Linked DNA regions of Homo sapiens. The protein of the gene in region 1 purifies or fractionates together with the protein of each later gene. This does not show direct contact. Each region holds a gene or a part of one and is shown in the gene's direction. Other genes may lie near its edges.

What was found. The genes of interacting proteins can lie anywhere in the genome.
Region 2: the proteins of IFI16 (region 1) and DDX10 purify together in Homo sapiens (affinity purification with mass spectrometry; 3 studies listed by BioGRID and IntAct, with this or other methods). This does not show direct contact.

Annotation. Positions count from the first base shown.
Region 1 is NC_000001.11:159,004,596-159,013,616, forward strand, and holds the start of IFI16 (gamma-interferon-inducible protein 16), read left to right. Parts: upstream 1-5,311; 5' UTR 5,312-5,566; intron 5,567-7,911; exon of another isoform or gene 7,912-8,885; intron 8,886-8,971; exon of another isoform or gene 8,972-9,021.
Region 2 is NC_000011.10:108,667,987-108,676,213, forward strand, and holds part of DDX10 (probable ATP-dependent RNA helicase DDX10), read left to right. Parts: intron 1-5,480; coding exon 5,481-5,541; intron 5,542-7,609; coding exon 7,610-7,740; intron 7,741-8,227. UniProt on the Homo sapiens protein: Putative ATP-dependent RNA helicase that plays various role in innate immunity or inflammation. Plays a role in the enhancement of AIM2-induced inflammasome activation by interacting with AIM2 and stabilizing its protein level.

The DNA of each region.
Region 1 (9,021 bases):
TTAGGAGGCTGAAGCAGGAGAATCACTTGAACCTGGGAGGCAGAGGTTGCAATGAGCCGAGATCGTGCCATCACAACAGAGCAAGACTCCGTCTCAAAAGAAAAAAAATTCCCAAAACCAGATGTTTAGGGTGGAGAGTTCATTACTGACAACAGTAGAGAATCTCATCTTCAATTTTAGAGATAAATTATATCAAGGGAAATTTTGACAGCCAAAGTGAAGTCCTGAAATTAAACAGAGTAAAGAAATTATCAATCTAGTAAAGATCCTCAAAGAATGCTTTCTGGAGAACAGTTTTAGATAAAATAAGCAAATAAAGAATGAAGATAGCAGAGATAAAGCCGGAGAAGTAGAAACTATCAATGTTTTTACCCCCTTCAAAAATAATGTTGAAACTTAGTACCCAATGCAACAGTGTTGGGAGCTTGGGCCAAATGGGAGGTATTTAGATCATGAGAATTTCACTCACGTAAATAGACTGATTAATGCCACTCTAACGGGCATGTAGGGGGTGAATTCGCCCCGTTTGTCATGTGAGGACACAGCAAGAAGGCCTCACCAGATACTGATGCTTGACCTTGGACTTCCACCTCAAGTACTGTGAGAAATACATTTCTGTTCTGTATAAATTACCCAGTCTATAGTATTCCATTACAGCAGCACTAAATGGACTAAGACAGTGGGAAAGTATGCATGTCCATTACAGGGAGGGTCAGAGAACAGGAGTTTTCATGAACCAGAAACTTCTTTCACTCATATTTTCTCCATGAGACATGCAATAAACAGATGAATGATGCCAACTCTGGCCTTGTACAGTATATCATGACTGGTTCACATCACTCCCCAGGTTTCCATATGCATTCACTCTCCTCTCCTGCCTCAACACTGAGTCTCTTTTATTCCACTCCAAAGTAAAGAGGTCATCCCTAGAACTACAGAAGCTCTTTCTGCCAACAGAGTTGTCTGGAGTTTATGGCATTAGCTTTGAGCAACAGGAAAAGTAGAATACAAAACTGCAATACAGAAACTACAAAATTTCAAGGAAGGACTGGCTGAGAGAAGCCTTGAGGTTGGAGGGGAAGGAATGGCATTGTTGTGAAAACGTGTTCTGGGAACTGAGCTTAAATTGAATTGTAGGAGGCTGCAGTCCCACTGGAAAATGCATACTGGCACCAAGATGACTGCTGCTTCCAGGAACATCCTCCCACTCCTTAGCAATGTGGAACAGATTGAAGGAAGCTCAAACAATCCATTTAAGCAGGAAGTAAATAGATTAAGAGAGCAACCAGATGGCCTAAGGCACTATCGGTATAGCTATCCCCACCCCTCAGCGCCCCCATCAGCTTTTCCTTCCTTGTTTCTTCTCACTGTCTGAAAGACTACTCAGGCGTGCACTGCGAGGTGGAGATCTGACTTCTCTTGTTCCCGCTTAAGACTGCCTCCTGTGTAAGTTTCTGCTATCTAGATCTTTGACTACCAACCAGCCAGGAGTGGTCTGCCTCTTCTTTGGTCTGAGCTTGCCTTGTGCTTATATTGTTGTACCCAAGCGAGTTAAGAAAATACCCCACACTTTGAGACGAATTAAGAGTCCTTTAGTAAGCCAGTGGCCAAAGAGACGGCTAATGCTCAAAATTCTCTCGGCCCCGAGGAAGGGGCTTGATTAACTTTTATACCTAGGTTTAGGAAGGGGAGGGGGACTCAAATGCAATAATTCTACAGAAGCAAAAACATGCCTTAAAAGACAAATGGTTACAAGAAGAGCAACGGTACCAGGTGCAAGGTTGTAAATCTTTCATTGTAATTAGATATAGGGTCTATGCCGGACACGAACTCAAGGTTTTATGTTGTTATCTTTTTGAGAAAAAGCCTGGGAACTTCATACATTGTTGGTGTTACTACCTTATCAGTTAATTGGGCTCTTTTGAAACGCTGAGGATCTGTTTACCCAGGCCAACTCCTTACTAAAGGGGGTTGGGTAAGGAGCCCTTAGTGTCTTGTAAATTAAGGGGTCAATTGGAGTTTGTCCGACCTTCCCAGCTAGAGAGAGTCTTATTTACATGAGAAGCAAGGCTGGGTGATTAAAGAGACAAGCAGGACAAAATTCAAAGTAACGAGTTAGAGTAAAAACAAGGTTAGGCATTTCAATATAGGGTGGTTCTTAGTCCAGCAGGGCGTTTTCCCGATAACCACCTGTTTAACTACATTCACCCTTGGTGCAAGTGCCAAAAAACAAACAAACAAACAAAAAGACCAAGGCGATAGGTATTTGCACCATAAACTTCTCCCATCTTTTATGTCCGTAATTTTGTGTTATTTCGCATTTCTGACTGTTTATAGAATTGAATTGGCCTTTACCTTATCATATAATAATATACTTTAATTTTAATCACAAATACATATGTTAAGTAGAACACAATCTAGGAAATACAAGATAATACAGAGAAAAATGGAAGTATTGGGGAAAAGGAAACAGCACAAAACCAAGTGTGACGAAAAAGATAAACTTTGACTTCTAATTTCAACTGAGAATCAATGGACAAAACATCAAAGCCATTATCTGAAATGCATGGTTCCATTCATGTGAGAGTTGGAGAGACAAATGTTAGTATTCCAAAAAAGAAAATAATTCGGTTTAGGCTTTGGGAAAATCAGATTCTGTGTCTTAACAGCAAAGGTCCAGCCCCAGCAGGAAGCATGAGAACCCAAACAATGCCCTTGTGCTAATATTGTTAAGTGGAGAATCTGTAAAGAAATAATGAAGAAAATGACATTCACACAAGCTTAAAAGGACATGGATGTTTTGCTAAAGAAAAAAATATGTGTAGAAATTAGTAAATCAAGGAAGTAATTTTGCTTAGCATTCAAGTGCATGGGCTTTGGAATAAGGTAGATCTGGTTTGAATTTGGCTCCAACACTAACTAGGCGCCTAGTTTTTAGAAAATAGCTTCAATTACTGCTACACACTGGATTATGTTATCTAAATTCATATGATGAAGCCATAACCTCCCAGTGTGATGATATTTGAAAACGAGGCCTTTGGTGGGTAGTTTATGAGGGTGGGGTCCTCATAATGTGATTAGCACCCTTATAAGAAGAGGTATCAGAGAGTGCTCTCTCTCTCTCTCAACACTAGGTGAGGACCCTGCATAAATATGGCTATGTGCAAGCCAGGAAGAGGGCTCATACCAGAAACTAAGTTGGCCATCCTTGATCTTGGAACCCTCAGCATCCAGAAGACCCAAATCAACTAAGATAGTAGTCTTCTCTAAAAAGGGGAAACTTTGCTGCATAGAGTTGATTTGCAAAACAAGTGAACAATGCATATGCCACAGTCTATTGCATCATGAAAAACCAGTGTGCAATAGGTCTTTTTGTTCTTAGCAAGGTAAAGACATTTGCAATACTGACAGGAGAAATGTCACCTACAAATACTCTAAAGTGTGAAGTGACATAAATGTTTCTGCACAGCTAAAACTTTGGTATATGTGGAACAGTATGGAAAATGAGGCCAGAAAGGTAAAATAGTAAGCTGCTTTTTGTCATAAAGAGAGAAATGGAACACTCATTGTTCAAAAATAGGTACATAATTGAGAGATTTTATTCAGAATAATGCCTGATTAATATAAATTTAGTCACTGTAATAATGTAGCTACATAATTTATATATATGTATATATATTCGCACATTTTTTGCTTTATCAGGAATTTTTGTATATTCTACTAATGACTTTTCTGTATGATAGCACAAATTGCAATTGTTGGCCACTGCCACAAAGTGGGGGAAAATGCACATTTTTAAGCATTTCTTTGCTTCATCTATGAAAATTTCATCTTTGTGGTATGAATTATGGAGCATTGTCCTGAGTTGCCCTTATAGGTGACCGCAGTTTGTGTGTTGTATGCTGGAGTCCCAATTGAGGACATTACTGCATATAAAATGATTATAAGTAAAAGGCAGAAAATGTTCTGAAGGGTCATAACTTCCAAGGGTTCTCTACCCTTTGACCTCTGGATTGGGGTTCCCAGTGACTGCCTTAATATCCTTCTCTACCTACTGCCTTAAGGCCAACTCAATGTATCCACGTAAAGAGTACCCTAAAGCCAGTAAAAGATTATCACGAACACCCAGAGATGTTTATGGCCATCATTCCAGATCCTCTTTGCTTTTTCTTGACTTACTCCTTTTTTGATAAAGTTATTCATATGGTTTCAAATCCAGAATTCAGCTATTCACTTCATGGCCCTAGTTTGGATTAAAACAATCAGCTTTCTTTTGCTCTGTAGATGGCCTTGGACAGTACATATTAACAGTCTATGGGGCCCCTTTTCCACTCATGACCACATCCTGCTTGCAGATCTGCTGCTGGGTTAACACCACATCATCTGCTAGTTGATGCCATTTATTTGACATCCTGGGGTTACAGCACGCTAAAGGGCACCCACTGTCCTTAACAGAGAAAAATACACTGCTGAGCAGAGGATTAAACAGACTCCTCACACTACCGGAAGTTCAGTGCATTTTCCAGGATTTTCAAGTCTTCGATGCTGTCATGTTGAGAGTCCACTATCCACGTTTGTTTATCCAGGAATAATGCAGAAAATCTGAGCATTCGTGAATCTAATCATTGAGGTAAAGTAACCTAGTCATGGTCAAGAGGACAGCTAGTGTTAAACTCCTTCATATAAATTTAAGGAAGGATTTACATATTCATAATGACTTTCTGATCTGGAAAGCCCAGGCTTGTCAGTTATTAATAATTGGATGAATACTTCAGGTAGTATTTAAACAAATAGCGATTTCATAGCAGACATTTCCCCAACCAGGAGATGCAGTAAAGTATTGGTAGCAATAGATGCTCCTACCAAGATCTCCTCCTGCCACTGCCACTCTGTGCACAGGAAAGGAGGGGAGAAGAAGCCATGTTGCTTCTCTTATATTTGAGCATCATTTAAGGGAATATAAGTCTCTAATGACTCACATGTAAGTCTGCTGGGTAAGAAAGTTCTAATGTTGGAACTCCTTTCAGCTATCGAATTTTGTAAGAAAAAAAACTTATTTGTGTTTATATACATTTATGAGATACAAGTGTAATTTCGTTACATGGATATATGCCATATTGGTGAAGTCAGAGATTTCAGTGTGCACATCACCCGAAAAATGTTAACTGTACCCATTAAAGTAATTTCTCATCCCCCATTTCCCCTCACCACATGCTCCAGCCCTTGCCAGGAAACTGTTCATTTTCTCTGACTAACAGAAACGAAAGCTAAAAACACTGGTGGGAGGAGTCTCCACATTGTTTCCTACTCCATTTTCTCTGGGGCAATAGCAGAATAGGAGCAAGCCAGCACTAGTCAGCTAACTAAGTGACTCAACCAAGGCCTTTTTTCCTTGTTATCTTTGCAGATACTTCATTTTCTTAGCGTTTCTGGAGATTACAACATCCTGCGGTTCCGTTTCTGGGAACTTTACTGATTTATCTCCCCCCTCACACAAATAAGCATTGATTCCTGCATTTCTGAAGATCTCAAGATCTGGACTACTGTTGAAAAAATTTCCAGTGAGGTGAGTACTGTTCCTGATTTTGTAAATATGATCTTGTTCCTTCCTTGAAGTCCCCAGAATCACAAGGGGACAATCAGTATTGGTTATTCAGGGTCATGGGATGATGGGAGTAGGGCTGAGTATTCAGAAAAGTGAAAACTGAGTTGCTTGATATGAATCCTTCATTTACTTAGGAAGATAACAGGCATCTTCTATTCCACCACAACTGAGGACTGAACAAGAGAAAATGCATTTTGACCGTTGCAGATTTTAAAATTAATTATCCGAGTGTATACTGGCATAAGTTGGTACTTAGAAGAGGGCTTCTGTTATTTTGGCTGGAAGAAGTGTTGGAAACTCGGTAGCTGTGGTGGGTTCTCAAGATAGTGACATGAAAAAAGTATCATGAAAGAATATTAAGTAAAAAACATATCTGAGCATAGAGATGTATTATATGACATCATCCCAATTTTACAAAACATAAGAACAAATGTACACAGAGTAGAAAATTTTTTTCAGTTTCACAAACACAGTTACTCAAGCACATGGTGTCTTAATATTTTCATAAGTATATTGATCCTTTACTTTAGCTCCATTCTGCACCGGGTGCTAGCGGCAGAATTTCAATCATTTTGGAATTACTCTCTGCCCTCCTGAAAGTTAATGATTTTTTTTTTCCTTGTGGCAAGGTATAGGGGAGTGGAGGGGAAGGCAGTTAGGAAAAGGTTACTATTGTTTACTTTTCAAATTTTTAAAAGATGTTTTCTATAGCCTGGTACAATATTTCATGTGTGCTTAAATGGAATGTGAGATTCTTAAATGTTGTTTTCAGAATTTTATTAGATAAATGTTGTTAATTACGTTGTTCAAATTTATTATATCATTACAGATTTTTTCACCTTGTTCATTTAGTAATTGAAGCATAAACTGAAATCTCCTATTATAAAGTTTGCTTTTTTGGCCGGGCACAGAGGTTCATGCCTGTAATCCCAGTACTTTGGGGGAGACCAAGGCGAGCGGATCACTTGACGTCAGGAGTTCCAGACCAGCCTGGCCAGCATGGCGAAACCCTGTCTCTATTAAAAATACAATAATTAGCCGGGTATGGTCATGTGTGCCTGTAATCCCAGCTACTCAGGAGACTGAGGCAGGAGAATCGCTTGAACCAGGAGGCAGAGGTTGCAGTGAGCCGAGACTGTGCCACTACACTCCAGCCTGGGTGACAGAGCAAGGCTCTGTCTCAAAAAAAAAAAAAAATTTTTTTTCTTTGTAGTGCTCTCACAATCACATACATGTTATGTGTATATATAATATACATTCACACACAAATATATGTATATATAATCATGTATACAAACAGGTACACACATATATGTGTGTAGTGATGTCTGTACATGTGTGTATATGAAGAGAAATATATACTAATTATAGTACCATGAAGCACTATAAAATAATAAATAATATCATTAGATAAATTAGATAAATTCATAACTAAAACATAATTTTCTAGGAGTTGAAACTTTTATCATGTGGTATCTGAAGTTACTTTTGGGCTTAAGGTATATTTAAAATTACACAAACATAGATAAACTGGCTTTCTTTAGTTATTCCTTGCAAGATAATTTTTAACAATTTTTTTCACCTTTTGTTAACAATATATATGTAGATTTCTTAAATCAAATTTGATGAAAGTTGTCACTTAACAGGTCAGACCTTTTAGGTATATGCTGGTAATTAACAATCTGCTGTCTTTACTTCAATTTATGACACTTCTATATCATCTCACTATCTAAGACAATTGCTTTAGTGAATTGTCATGTTCTTTTTCTTCCCTCCCTTTACCATGCTGTTGTAATTTCTGTTTCTCTTATATTTGATCAGGGTTTTCTTTGTAAGACATTAGGAACACCTAAAAAAGTTTATTTTTCACTCTTCTTATCTTTTGGCTGGCAGAATTTTTAATTTTATTCATGTTTTCCTATTAAATATTATTTTCAATAGATGTTTTCTTGTGGTATGAGTCTTTGTCTTGCAAAAAGACTGAGGCCCTGAGTATCACAAAATAGTTTTTGAGACTCTTCTATTTAAATATCATTTTGCCTAAATTAAAACTCTAAAATGTAAAATTATATTTTCCCTTAAGACAAGATGAAAGCACCTCTTCTGTGCTGTGGAGCTAGATACATTTTGAAGTTAAGAATCTGGAGGCTTCAGAAAGGCTATTTAGTGTATATATTCTAAATAGTGTCTTACTAGAAACTCCATTGGGATATAAATAATTACTCCAAAATCAAAAGCACTAATATTGCAAAACAAAACATGTGAGTGTTCACATTTCAGTGAAATAAAGATTATACATAGCCTACTGTCATCCCAAATCTGGTTTTATTTTGCAAATAAATTGTGCTGTCACACTTGTTGGAAACAAGTGCTCAGTGCCACAAAGAAAAACCAGCACTTAAACAGGAAATTTCTCAGCAAAGCATATTTGCTTCTACAGAAGGGTGCTGCCTGCGTCAGTCACAATGCACATTCTAAGCTGACCGGATTGGCTACTGCTTTAAATTCTATAGGGGTAATTAGGCGGGAAGGAAGACACTGTCCTGTACCAATTAGGCGGGAAGGCATGTCTGGGGCGGCAAAGGAAGGAAGGGTTGTTTACAGAACAGGAAAGAACAGGAAAGTTTGAAGACGAACTTATTGTTTCTAGCACACTCACAAAATAAGTCAAAACTTTCCATTGAAAATTTTTTTTGGTTTTGCAATTGATATGGAACTTTGGACCAACATTATATAAAAATAACTCCATTGTCCTGCTTCAGGCAGTTTTGATATAGAGATTCACTTTCAATTTGATTCTTGAATCTTTGTAGGTGATCTATTCCTCATTACCGAAGGCTTACAGAGTATTTTTGTTCATTATATTCTTCAGTTTCACTATAATGTGTTTTTGTATAGATTTTCCCTTCATTCTCTGGACCTTTTCAGTCCAAGGATCCTCATGTTCTCGTAAGAAGGAAGCTTTTTTTTTTTTTTTTTTTTTTTTTTGACGGAGTCTCACTCTGTCACCCAGGCTGGAGTGTAGTGGCACGATCTCCGCTCACTGCAACCTCCGTCTCCTGGGTTCAAGCAATTCTCCTGCCTCAGCCTCCCGAGTAGCTGGGACTGCAAGCGCTTGCCACCACACCTGGCTAATTTTTGGTATTTTTAGTGGAAACGAGGTCTCACTGTGTTAGCCAGGATGCTTTTGATCTCCGGAACTTGTGATTCGACCACCTCGGCCTCCCAACATGCTGGAATTACAGGCGTGAGCCACTGCGCCTGGCCCAATTAATAGCCCCTGAAATTTAGATATCTTGGTTATACACAAAGACATCATTCCTAAAATTAAAAAATTCATTAATTTAAAAGTTTTGGAATCCATACCTTGCACTGTCATCATGGAAGTGTACAGGTGTTAAGAGGTCAAGAGCAGT
Region 2 (8,227 bases), on another chromosome or scaffold:
AGTCTGGTAGCACAGTGCTTGTCCTTGAATAGGTGCTCAGTCAGTGTTTAGATGTTGTTTGCTGTAAGACTAGACCTTTCCCAGGTGGCTTTGCTCTGGTTGGCAGCATTGGATTATTCTTTTTTGTTTCTTGTAATTGTGAACATTTATCAAACTTTTATTCATGCTGGCTTTCCGTATACTCACCACAAATAACCCTGTGAAATTGTTCCCATTATACAGGTGAGACAACTTTAAGGCACAGCAAGGTTAAATAATTTGTGTAAGGTTAAACAGCTAAGAAGTGAAAAAGGAGTTCTAAGCCAGGTAGTCTGATACCAGTGCACCAAACCAGTAGGCTTTACTGCATTGCATTTATTTAAATCCCATTTGTTTCATTGTTGAAGGAGCAGCTTTTTCCCCCGCTAAGCATTGTTCTGTTTTACTTCTTTAATTTTAGAAATATTTTCTTAAGATTTGGTTGAGAAATAAATGCAGTGTGAAATCAGTTGTCAAGGTTAGCAATACTAGGATATAATTATTTGAATAGCAGGATTATCATTCTCTAGGTAAACAAGGTGCAGGCCCTCACTATGTGGCTCCTCAGGTGGTAGCATTGTACATAAAACTTACTACATAGCCATGGTACACAGGTGGTGCTCAGTAGCCTCACTGGTGAACTACTGAACAATTTGATTCCGAAACCTTTTAAAACAATTTGACAGGCACTTGTCTAGGCGGGTGTGAGTATATATGGAAAAAAAATACGTGCCCAAGTCCCTAGGGAACCTGGGCATGTAGGGGTTGATACAGTTTGACACGTTATATTAGTATGCATAAAATGTTATAATAGTAAGTTTGTAACATGTACCTCAGTGCTGTGGAGTTAGAGGATGGTGTAATTAGGGGAAGTTGAGTTATCCTATACTGAGCTCCTTCTGGTCAGATGCATTACAAAAAACATGCTTCTTCTGGGTATGCTTCCCTTCCTCCTGGTGGTTGCAGCCTCACGTCTGGCTTGGGGAGCTGATGTGGGCTGGATTTCATCCCCTGCATCTCAGTCTTAGCAGATTTCATTGTGGTGCATACAAACTGTCCAGTGGTTTGCAGTTGCCAAGAGTGGAGCTAAGCTTTTTTTTTTTTTTTAAGATGGAGTCTCACTCTATCACCCAGGCTAGAGTACAGTGGCACCATCATGGCTCACTGTAGCCTTGACCTCCTGGGCTCAAGTGACCCACCCAACTCAGCCTCCTGAGTAGCTAGGACTACAGGTGCATGCCACCAGGCCTGGCTAATTTTTTTGGTAATTTTTGTAGAGATGGAGTCTTACTGTATTTCCCAGGCTGGTCTTGAACTCCTGTGCTCAAGCGAACTGCCCACCTGTAATTCCAAAGTGCTGGGATTACAGGTGTGAGCCACTGTGCCTGGTGGAGCTAGTTCTTGAATGATGAGTTCATCAGATAGAAAAGATTGGCAAGGATGTTCTAGGTGGAGGGAACATGGGGAAATACAGAGAGGTGAAAATGCATGGCATTCTTTGAGGGAGGAAATGCTCCTTGGAGTGTTGGATGCATTCCTGAGTTGGCTTCAGATGGGTTCGAGAAGAAGGTTGGACTGTGATGACATTGGAGGCTGCAGCATGCAGTATAATGGCTTCTTAAAGTGTCCACATCCTAATACCTGGAACCTGTGAATATGTTAGATGGTAAGGGGTAATTAAGGTTGCTAATCAGCTGACCTTAAAGTAGGGCGATTATCCTGGATTAGGTGGGCCCAATGTAATCACAGGTGTCCTTAGATGTGGAAGAGGGAGGCGGAAGAGTCAGTGTCAGAATGACGTGATGTGAGAAAGACTTGGAGTCTGTTGCTGACTTTAAAGACAGAAGAGGGTCACCACCTAGGAATGTGGGCAGCCTCTAGAAGCTGGAAAAGGCGGGGAAATGGACTCTGCCGTAGAGTCATCAGAAAATAACGCAGCCCTGCTGCCACCTAGATTTTAGCCAAGCGAAACCTATTGTGGACTTTTGACCTCCAGAGCTCTAAGGTAATATATTTGTGTTGGTTTAAGCCACTATTTGTGGTAATTTATTACAGTAACAGTAGGAAATTTATACAGAGGCCATGCTCAAAGACTTTATCTGGAAGCCATGGGAAGTATGTGGCGGGACTCTGTATAGAGAGAATATATCTGAGCTGTAAAGGTTGGAGGGTAAGAGATCAGGTAGGAGACTGGAGACTATTGGTAGAGTCTAGGTCTTGGGTCCTTTGAGAGGCAGATGACAAAATGGGATTGGGTGAACTGGAGCTTTAGGGGTTACAGGCACAGGAGGGGGAATGTCCGTGAAGGCTGAAGGAGAGGGAACAGGAGTAGGGAGGGAAAGGAGAGAAGGATGGAAGGAGCAGCAGGTAGGAAGGTAGGAAGAGTCTCAGACTGCAGCACAGTTCCAAGAAAGATTCAGCCAGGCTGATGGGGAGTCACTGATCCAAAATTGTCCATCAGAGGAATCCCCGGGCCTGCAGTAGCACTGCTGAGCCCCGCCATTGACTAGGAGCAGCCCGGGGGAAGCATGGCTTTTCCATGGTGGGTCTAGAGGAGGCACAGCTGGCATTGTCAGTCAACTATGCTTCTCACAGCAGGAGGGTGGTGTATTTCTAAGGGGTGGTGTGTGTTGGAGGGGCTGCTGGAAAACTGGGGATTGAGGCTCACTGAGAAATGTTGAGCTAGCTGTGTTAGTTCAGCAGCTGTTTTTACTATTGCTGAATGACTCTTTGCATCTGGGATTCATTTAGACTGTAATCAGCTGTACTGCATAGAAACTGCATTCAAATCCTGATTTTTTTTTTTTAAATCAAAATTTGGTCTGGTGTAGTTGAGGCGGTTTGCTGTTCTTCTCTTGACGGCAACAGGTGGAGCATTCTAGGGCGTTTCAATGCTTTTTTCATCAGGCATTATTCACTTTAGCGAGAAATAGGCATTACCAGAGAGTTGTGAGAAGTATAAGAGGATGGTCAAATGTCACCCTTTTCTCCTCCGCTTTTCAACTTTTCCAACAGCCGTGGGAAGCCTTTAATAAGGACCATCCCTGAAATATCTCTTCCCTGAATTCAGAAGAATAGTGAGACAGATTTGTAGACTGAGTATGAGTATTATGGAGATGTAAGTGATTTTTCCCCCCTAAGAAAGGGATAAAGGGAAGGAGAAAGAGTTATTTTTTTGAGGTAGAGTCTCGCTCTGTTGCCCAGGCTGGAGTGCAGTGGCTCTATCTCTGCTCACCACAACCTCTGCCTCCTGGGTTCAAACGATTCTCCTGCCTCAGCCTCCCAAGTAGCTGGGATTACAGGCGCACGCCACTGCATCTGGCTAATTTTTATAATTTTAGTAGAGACAGGGTTTCGCCATGTTGGCCAGGCTGGTCTTGAACTCCTGACCCCAGGTGATCCGCCTGCCTTGGCCTCCCAAAGTGTTGGGATTACAGGCGTGAGCCATCGTGCCTGGCTGGGTTATTTTCTTTGTAGGAACCGTAGCCATCTCCTGCTGTGGCTGCTATGTAATCCTTGGAATATAACAGAATATCTAGAGCAGGGTCAGCAAACTCTTTTTCTGTAAAGGGCTGGATAGTCTGTGTTAGGCTTTATGGTCCATACAGTCTCCGCAACAACTACATAGACAATAAATAAATGAATTATTGTAGTTGTGCTCGAATAAAACTTTACTTACTAAAATAGGCAGCAAATTGGATTTGGCCCGTAGGCTGTAGTTTGCTGGGCCCTATTTTAGAACATCAACAGAATCAAAAGTTCCTTTTCTTCGTCTTCTTTTAAAGAATATGGCGCCTGTAATCCCAGCACTTTGGGAAGCCGAGGCGGGTGGATCACGAGGTCAGGAGATCAAGACCATCCTGGCTAACACGATGAAACCCCGTCTCTACTAAAAATACAGAAAAAATTAGCTGGGCGTGGTGGTGGGCGCCTGTAGCCCCAGCTACTTGGGAGGCTGAGGCAGGAGAATGGCGTGAACCCGGGAGGTGGAGCTTGCAGTGAGCCAAGTTCGCGCCACTGCACTCCAGCCTGGGCGACACAGCGAGACTCCATCTCGGAAAAAAAAAAAAAAAAAAAAAAAAGGAATATGGTATATAGTTTTCTGTTGTAATGCTTGATTGAAGAGTGTTGGAGCAGTTTCATTCTTCTAAACTTTCCCTCCAGGAGGTTAACTGACTTTAGGAAGATAGATGTGCTGTGCAATGTTTTGTTTGAGGAGCTCGCTTTGCCTGTACTGTGTCTCTTGCTGGGGATTGAAGAGTGTGTTGGCAGCCTGCCTCCTTCTGTAGGCATTCCATTCCCTTTGAAAACAGCTTTTTAGCTGATAATACCACGAGTGCTAGAGTGAGCTACACCTAATTTTAATGCCTTGTTTGGAAGATTATCTTCTAATTGAGGTTCCTTGCTGGGACAGTATGTTATTTGAATAAACCGTTCTTCTAATGCTGGTACACTGATTCTGCCTCCTTTCCAGTGATATCTGAAATGATTTGTAGGGATTAAGACAATGTTTTAATATTTGTATTTTCAGCATTGGAGGGCACAGAGTAAACACTGCCTGGGCAATGTTAAGAATCATAGGAAAGATGTGTAGATTGTAAAATGAAGTACAACTGTCATCCTTTTACTGCCTAGAGTGTAATTTAAATAAATGAACCATACAAATGCAGCTTTTTCCTTTTGCGAATCATGTATAATTTGGCAGCATATTTCCAGAACTGAGCAGTAGTTCCTGCCTTCAGCATCTGTAATAAAATAATTCTCCTGAGCAGCTGAAATGAAATTCAGAAAATTGGGTTTGTGCTAATAAAGAACATCAGTAATGAATATTTGAATAATGTAAAGTTAGCAAAATGTTACTTATTGTGGCTTCAAAGCATGACAGACATTTCCCCTGTGTTGAAATAATACTCCTCCTTCAGTAACCCCAAAATGAATAGTTATCAGGTTGGATTTCATAGGCCACTGATTTATGGTTAAAACTTTGAAAGGATTGTGCTAACAAGAAATATTTCTCCAACTAATTTCACTCTTTTTTCCAAATTGTGTGTATAGAACTATTTTCATTGTGATCTGTGGTTTGTGGTAATTTTGTCCTTGTTTCTTAAATTGAGATCCCTTGAAGGATGATAGGAAGTAAATTTTCTTCCTAAAATTGATGTGGTTGGTGATGCTTTACTGTGTTCAACATTTTGGAGGTCAGATAGTAGTATGTGTGGTGTGTGTGTATTGGGTGACTTTTTTTTCCTTACCAATTGAAATGCTTACAAATGTATATTCGATTCAGGGACAGCCTCTTCAGGGCATATTTCGTTACAGAAGGAATGATGGCTTTTAATTAGAAGCGATGATTGAATTCAACCCTGAATTACCAAGGATGAGCTGGGCAATACAATGTAGAGAAGAAATGGCTGTGTCGTGAAACAAATGAGTTACCCTGATTCCTTTTTCTTTTTTTCCAGATAAATGTAAATGAAATCACAAGATTTTCAGATTTTCCCTTGTCCAAAAAAACATTGAAAGGTAAGTATATGGTGATCTTGGGATGTGTTATTGGATTTCTTGGCATTTTTGATAAATGGGAGAAGATTTAGAGGGTTTAGCCTGAAAAATCTTATTTTGGCAAATTTTGATATCATGAAAACCAATGAAAATAAGCAATATTCAAGTTTTAACAGTACGTTATTCTCATTCTTTCTGGACTAATTAAAAGAAAAACAAGTTTCCAGCATCCTCTGAATAAAATGAAATCTAATTTTGTTAGTTAAAATAAGCAAGGGAACAAACCAAGATGCAACACCCTTTGTATCTGTTTGCTAGGGCTGAGATGACAAAATATCAGACTGAGTGGCTTAAACAACAGAGACTGATTTTCTCACAGTTCTGGAAGTTGGAAGTCTGGGATCAAGATGTTGGTGGCATTGGTTTCCTCTTAAGGCAAAATAAGGGAAGGATTTGTTCCAGGCCTCCTTGGCTTGTGGATGGCTGCCCTCTTGCTGCCTTTTTATTTTTGGATACATAAAAATTGTATATATTTGGCCAGGTGTGGTGGCTCATGCCTGTAATCCCAGTACTTTGGGAGGCCGAGGTGGGTGGATCACAGGGTCAGGAGTTTGAGACCAGCCTGGCCAACATGGTGAAACCCCGTCTCTACTAAAAATACAAAAATTAGCTGGGTGTGGTGGCGGGCACCTGTAATCCCAGCTACAGGCTGAGGCAGGGGAATCACTTGAACCTGGGAGGCGGGTTCATGCCACTCTACTCCAGCCTGGGCAACAGAGTGAGACACCGTCTCAAAAAAAAAAATTGTATATATTTACAGTGTATACATGATGCTTTGAAATATGTATATGCTGTGGAATGGCTAAATCAAACTAATTGTATATGTGCTAATATTACCTCATCCTTTTGTGTTTAGAACTCTTAAAATCTACTTAGTATTTTTTCTTTTTTCAGTATATTTTAATTAACTATAGCAGTATATATTAAGAGAGATATATAATAGATCTCTCTTTTTTTTTTTTAAGATAGGGTCTTGCTCCGTCACCCAGGGTGCAGTGCAGTTGTGTGATCTTAGCTCACTGCATCCTCAGCCTTCTGGGCTCAAGTGATCCTCCCATCTCAGCCTCCTGAGTAGTTGGAACTGCAGGTGCATGCCACTGTGCCTGGCTAATTTTTAAAAATTTTTGGTAGAGATAGAGTTTTGCCATGTTGCCCAGGCTAGTCTTGAGCTCCTGAACTTTAAGGAATCTGCCTGCCTTGGCCTCCCAAAGTGCTGGGATTATAGGCGTGAGCCACCACGCCTGGCCTACAATAGATCTCTTGAAGTTCTTCCTTCTAACTGAAATTTTGTATGTTTGATGAACATCTTCCCACTCTCCTTACTTCCCCCAGCTTCTGGTAACTACCATTCTACCCTCTGCTCCTTTGAATTTGGCTTTTTTAGATTCTACATATAAGTGAGATTATGTGGCATCTTTATTGCTGTGCCTGGTTTATTTCAGTTAACATAAGGTCCTCCAGGTTCATCCATGTTGTTGTAAATAACAGGATTTCCTTTTTAAAGGCTGAGTCATATTCCATTTGTGTGTGTGTGTGTGTGTGTGTGTGTGTGTGTGTGTATGTGTATGTATATAACATATATTTTCTTTACTCATTCATGGACACTTAGGTTGATTTCATATCTTGGCTTCTGTGAATAATGCTGCAATGAACATGTGAGCACAAATACTTTTCAAAGTAGTGGTTTTATTAATAAACCCTTTGGATTATACCCAGGAGTGGAGTAGGTGGATCACAGAATAACTTGTCTCTCTTCACATGGTTTTCCCTCTGTGCATGTGGACCCTTGGTGTCTCTTTGTTCAAGTTTCTTCTCATAAAGACACCGTTTGTGTTGGATCAGAGTCCACCCCTATGGGGCTCTAACTTAATCAACCTCTTTAAAGGCCCTGTCTCCAAGTATAGTTATGTTCTGAGGTACGAGGCATTAGGGCTTCAACATAGGAATTTTGGGGGACACAACTCACTTAGCCTATAATACCATCCTACAGGGATCTTCTAAAGTATAATTCTTCCCTCCATGTTGCCAGGTTTGCAAGAAGCTCAGTACCGTTTGGTGACTGAGATACAGAAGCAGACCATTGGATTGGCTTTGCAAGGTAAAGATGTACTTGGAGCGGCCAAAACTGGATCTGGCAAGACTCTGGCTTTTCTTGTTCCAGTAAGTACATTGTCATTGGGTCAGACTGTCTGTTATACAATTTTATAACATTCTGTGCCCAGATGCAGATTATATAAAGAGATGTTTTCATGTTAGATTTCATGATAGATTGGCTAGAATGCGAGCTTCATCAAACAGGAGCCACATGTGTGTCTTGTTCTCACCATTTTCCCCAGGTTCTAGCACAGTGCCTTGCATGTGGCAGGCACTCAATAACTTACTGAATGAATGAACTATTGTGCCTTGACAAGTCATTACATTCTTGATGGAAGTGGAGTGCTCCAGTATGGCAGGTTAAAGTGGTTCTGTGCTGCAGTAGGACTGGTGGGAGACAGTTTCTGCTCTCACCCTTGTGAGCCTGCCAGTGGCATTTATACTTGCCACCTTGTTTAGGATAAAGCTGAAATATGCTCAGTTTAAGGAGCTTTAGGCATTTGTTGAGAATTTTCTGGGACATTGCTATCGGTCTTTTATGGCAGCAAAACAG